Linked DNA regions of Homo sapiens: region 1 is linked to region 2. A link means that fine-mapping ties the variant in region 2 to the expression of a gene that starts in the linked region. Tissue or cell type: whole blood. Region 2 holds a variant in brackets; the other region holds the start of a gene. All regions are shown on one strand. Distances are from middle to middle.

Region 1 (2,758 bases), 62 kb after region 2:
TTTGCCAGATCTTATTGTGGAAAGGTGGATAAAGGGTACAGGGTTCTCACTATACTGTATTATTTCTTACAACTGCATATTAATCTACAATTAACGCAAAATACAGTTTAATTCGAAAATAAGTAAAGTTAGCCTCAAAGCAAATTAAGTACAATTAAAAATAAATCTAACATCAGCTAAATGAAGTGTTCTCTTCTGCTCAAGCTTGTTTGGATACGTAATCTATGAATCAAAGAATTTATAAAACACATTTTCCTCACCAGGACCCCTCAATTTTCCCTCACTCACACATGCACACAAACACAGCAACTGAGACAAGGGGGTCCAGACAGAAAATTTGAGATTTTTAAAAAATACGCGATAGAATGAAAAGAGACCTGGGCTGAATCAGGGAGAAAAATCTTTGTCCAGGTTCTATAAAACAAACCAACGGTGTCACTTTGGACGGATCCTCTAATCTCTCAGCCTGCAATCTGAACTGTTTCTACAATTTAAACTTCTCATGTAGGAGGTTGCTTAGTAGAGTGGTTCTCAAACTTTTTGGTCTCCAGCCTCCAAAGAGCTTTTGTTTACACAGATGAAAACCACCAATGTTTACTATCAAAAATTAAAAGGGAGAATTTGTTTTTAAGAATACACAGGCATCGGGCCTCCAAACGGCGGTGAGATCACTCCATACCATGTAGCCTTTGGAAAACTCGATGTACACGACCTTGGTACTATTAACGAAAATAGTTGTAACCACACTTGGAAAACCGCTGGCTTACTAACAAGCGAGATAAATCTACAAAAGTAACTGGAAAGGTTCAAAACAGTGAACAAACGCGTTCTTTTAGAGTACAAAAGAGTCAAGGCGGGAAAAAAACGGTTTAAAATCCCAATGGAGGAAAACTTGGACGACCACACCATCGGATAAAACGGGAGAGCTTTTGAAAAGCCAGGGGAGCCGGGCTTTCTCCCGGCGGCAGGGAGGCTCGGAAGTGCTCACGGCTGCAAAAGATGACCGCTATTCAATCAGTCCGCACTGCGCCTTCAACTCCGTTATAGCCGTAAGAGACCCACAAACACCGCTGTGGATGTAACTTTTGGCAAAGACCGGGAAGTCGTTCAAGAACTCTCCCACCGTCCCGACGCTGGCGCCGCGCCCCGCGAACCGGGGTCCGGCCGCGCCCAGGCTCCGCAGAGGCTCCTCTCCCGCCCCAGGCGCCCGGCCGCCGCGGAAGCCGGGGAGCACTGGGCGGGCGGGGCCGGAGGGGGCGCGGGTCACAATCCCGGGCCGGACCAGGGGGCCGGTGGGTCGAGGGCGGGAAGTCCCGCGGGGGCCGGGGAGCGCGGGGCTGGGGCCCCGGCGTCGGCGGGACTCACCAGGTGCCGCGCCACCTCGGAGGAGGCCATGGTCGCGGGCAGGGGCACGGTGAAGCGGCTGTATCAGCCCGGCCCCGAGCGGCTGGTCCCGGCGACGGCGGCGGGAAGGCCGGAGGGCAGAAGCAACGGGCGGGGCGCGAGGCTAGGCTGCCTCCGCGACGGGGAAGGGACAGGGGCGGGGCCGAGCTGGAGGCCTCCGGGGGCGGGGTTGGGGCGGACGCCCTGTGGTGCGCGCTGAGCGTTTTGCCTGCGCCAAGCGAGCCCCTCACAGGAGCTACCCTCGACGCCTGAGGACTGAGCGTCAGCGTTGGGGCGGGCTGAAGGAGAGCTGGGACTCCAGGAAGACGGCGCGAGGAATGCAGGCGGGAACTGCGGAGCAGTGATTGCGGCCCTCGCGAGGCCGGAAGTGGGCGGGCCTTGAGGCGAGGCCGCCCTAGGTAGGTGTGGCCGAGACAGCGGGGAGCGGAAGTGGGCGTGGCCTGGTGGCGTGGGCGCGGGGCGGGGGTGCGGGGGGCGTGTCCGCCCGGGCGCGGCCCAGTGAGGCGGTGGCCGAGTCCTCTGGCCTCAGACGCGTAGGCTGGCAGCCCGCTGAGCCCGCCAGACTCCGCCGCCGTCGGGAGCCGGCCGCTGGGAGCCCGTCGCTATGGGACCGCGCTGAGCCGCCCGCTGGCGGGGGAGCAGCGCGGTCGAGGATGGAGGGGCCGGCAGAGTGGGGCCCCGAGGCGGCGCTGGGCCCCGAGGCGGTGCTGCGCTTCCTGGCGGAGCGCGGGGGCCGGGCCCTGCACGCCGAGCTGGTGCAGCACTTCAGGGGCGCCCTAGGCGGCGAACCGGAGCAGCGCGCCCGCGCCCGCGCGCACTTCAAGGAGCTGGTGAACGCCGTGGCCACTGTGCGCGTCGATCCCGCCGACGGCGCCAAGTACGTGCACCTCAAGAAGAGGTTCTGTGAAGGGCCGTCCGAGCCCTCCGGGGACCCGCCGCGAATCCAGGTGACCGCCGAGCCCGAGGCCCCCGACGGCCCTGCCGGGCCCGAGGCGCGCGATCGGCTCCCCGACGCGGCGGCCCCGGAGTCGCTCCCTGGACAGGGCCGCGAGCTGGGCGAGGGAGAGCCCCCCGCCCCCGCGCACTGGCCGCCCCTGAGCGCCGGGGCTCGCAGGAAGAACTCGCGGCGCGACGTGCAGCCCCTACCGCGGACTCCAGCCCCGGGGCCCAGCGAGGACCTGGAGCTCCCGCCACATGGCTGCGAGGAGGCGGACAGGGGCAGCTCCCTTGTGGGGGCTACCGCACAGAGGCCGGCCCGCCAGAACCTCCGTGACCTGGTGATGGGCAGCTCCCCGCAGCTGAAGAGGAGCGTGTGTCCCGGGGGCAGCAGCCCGGGCAGCTCCTCCGGGGGAGG
Region 2 (2,758 bases):
TGCTGTATCTTTTGTAAACACTACTTTTAAGGACACGACACATTCTCGTACTCAAAGATCCTTTTAAAAGTATCTTTTTTCTTTGGGAGGCCGAGGCAGGCGGATAACGTGAGGTCAGGAGTTCGAGACCAGCCTGACCAACATGGAGAAACCCCATCTCTACTAAAAATACAAAATTAGCTGGGCATGGTGGCACATGCCTATAATCCCAGCTACTCGGGAGGCTGAGGCAGGACAATTGCTTGAACCTGGGAGGCCAAGGTTGCGGTAAGCTGAGATTGCACCATTGTACTCCAGCCTGGGCAACAAAAGCAAGACTCAGTCTCAAAAAACAAAAAAAAAGTATCTTTTTTTTTTTTGTTTTTTGAGACGGATTCTCGCTCTGTTGCCCAGGCTGGAGTGCAGTGGCATAATCTTGGCTCACTGCAACCTCTGCCTCTTGTGTTCAGGCGATTCTCCTGCCTCAACCTCCTGAGTAGCTGGAATTATAGGCATGTTGCCACCATGCCTGGCTAATTTTTGTATTTTTAGTAGAGATGGGGTTTCACCATATTGACCAGGCTGGTCTCAAACTCCTGATCTCAAGTGATCCACCCACCTCGGCCTCCCGAAGTGCTAGGATTGCAGGCGTGAGCCACCACGCCCGGCCCCATTTTTAGAAATTAGAAATAAATGCCAGGGAAAATATTTCTCTCTGCTGAGCTAGCAGATGACTTCCATCTAAACTCTGTGTGGTCCCTTCTGCCCTGCCTGCCTAGAAGTTAGAGCCCAGTCTTTGTGTTCACTTAAAAATTCCCTCAACCAGGGCTCTCGGCTGCCCTCTGTGCAAACCCCTTCTTCGTACCCTGTATTATAAGGCTCCTGTTCTCCTCATGTTCATGGTTGTAACGTAGCTGCATTTTTAAATTGTAAATTACCGAGCATACTTTTTGGAAATACAAGGGGCATAAATGTTAAATGAAAAAATTATTCCAAGATATAGACAGACATATCAAATTGGGTAGTAATAATAATGATGGTCATGTAACCTGAGGGATAAATATAAACTGTACTTTTTCTTAAAGTGGGGAGGGTATATAGGAAATCCGTCTGTCATATGCAACATGCCTCATGAGTTCTTCTAGAATCTTGTCAATAAAGGAATAGGGAAGACAGAACGTCAACGATATTTGGAGACATCATTTGTTCTGTGCATCTCCCCATTCTAGTCATCTAATGTTCACACACTATTATCTAAGCACACATCATTTTACAAAGCTACATATAGAAATATGGATTTATACAAAAGATAAATTAAGGGATATTTGTTTCACAACAATATTGGCAAGGACATATTTAAATAACAGTCCTTTAATATAGAATTAAATAATGTTTTGAGTGGTATCTTTTTATTAGTGAATTGGTAAAACTAAGATTCATGCTATATGAGAAACTCTTGAATAAAAGAAACTAAACAAACATAATACCCATGTACAATATGCAATCTGTGATTGCATCCTGGTTCAAAAACAAAAACAGAAAAATCACCAAATAAAAAGGAACGATTTTGAAAGCCAATCTTGGGGCAACTGGGGAAATCTGAATAAGGACTGAAGATTGGGTGAGATTATGGTATTCCTGTTTTCTTAGGTAAGGGGAAGGACATAGGTATCCTATACTTTCACTTTTCTGTTGTTTGAACTTTTTCCAAATAAAACAT[C/T]AAAATTCGCATTATAAATAAATTAGTAAACTATTACTTTTACAAAACCATTTCCTGCACAGTTCATTTACATAGCAAGTACTGTAAGTGTATTTGAAATAATAAACTAGCACAATTGGATTACAGATTAACTCTTCAAGAAATCATGTATTTTCAAGAAAATAGCTTTACTCAAAACCTAAATTGCTGCTTCAGAACTAGAAGCAAACAAAACTACAGAAGTTCAGTGATTTTTTTGGTGCCAGGGCTACCCCAAGGTCATCTAGACCAGGGGTCCCCAATCCCCAGGCCGCGGACCAGTACTGGTCCATGGCCTGTTAGGAACTGGGCTACACAGTATAAGGTGAGTGGCGGGCAAACAAGCATTACTGCCTGAGCTCCGCCTACTGTCAGATCAGTGGTGGCATTAGATTCCCACAGGAGCACAAACCCTATTGCAAACTGTGCATGTGAGGGATCTTGGTTGTGCGCTCCTTGTGAGAATCTAATGCCTGATGATCTGAGCTGGAACAGTTTCATCCTGAAACCATCTCCCCTGGTCCGTGGAAAAACTGTCTTCCAGGAAACGGGTCCCTGGTGCCAAAAAGGTTGGGGACCACTGATCTAGACCACCTAACTACATCCTGAGAGACTGAGTTCAAATGGAAAGTAAAGCTACTTCACAGCCTTCACAGATATCCATTTCAGGGCAAACAACCACCCCAGCAACACTCAAAAAAGGCTTTATTAAGCCATAGTAAAAATGTTTATAGCTCATGGTTAAGATACTTCTTAGTAACCTAGTCCATTACAAGCCCTTGGTAAACCATTTCTAATGGAAGAATATTTGCTCAAAAGGCCAAAATTCTCTTTGGTCTCAGTCAAAGGAGTGAGATGACAAAGGGAAGGTCATAGTTTGGGAAGCATCACAGTAAGACGCATACACTGTGTTGCCACTGTGGCTGTGAGGCCCACCACCTTCAGGAGTTGGGCTGTGGCAAATGTGGCTTACCCTGCTAGGCATAAGAAAACATCCAGTCGTGTTTCTTCTTTTAGCCTTGGCACTAACAAAGACAAACC

What was found. PIP is the estimated chance that this variant, and not a neighbour inherited with it, causes the effect.
Region 1: it holds the start of SEPTIN10, and the variant in region 2 is fine-mapped to the expression of SEPTIN10 in whole blood (TOPMed, PIP above 0.99).

What each region holds. Positions count from the first base shown.
Region 1 is chr2:109,612,433-109,615,190 of GRCh38, forward strand. SEPTIN10 (septin 10) reads right to left here and starts at 1,534. Exons shown (of 11, transcript NM_144710.5): 1 at 1,366-1,534. The coding sequence starts at 1,395. It overlaps SOWAHC (sosondowah ankyrin repeat domain family member C), which reads left to right and starts at 1,932. Exons shown (of 1, transcript NM_023016.4): 1 at 1,932-2,758. The coding sequence starts at 2,058. It also overlaps a transcript of RANBP2 not described here. RefSeq lists an enhancer at 424-1,333 and silencers at 1,186-1,275, 1,306-1,555, 1,816-1,985.
Region 2 is chr2:109,549,965-109,552,722 of GRCh38, forward strand. The region is part of intron 9 of SEPTIN10 (septin 10); the gene reads right to left. It also overlaps a transcript of RANBP2 not described here and the pseudogene RPL37P12. Among named protein-coding and RNA genes, the nearest start is that of SEPTIN10, 63 kb to the right of the region's middle. The variant C/T (reference allele first, on the strand shown) is at 1,700.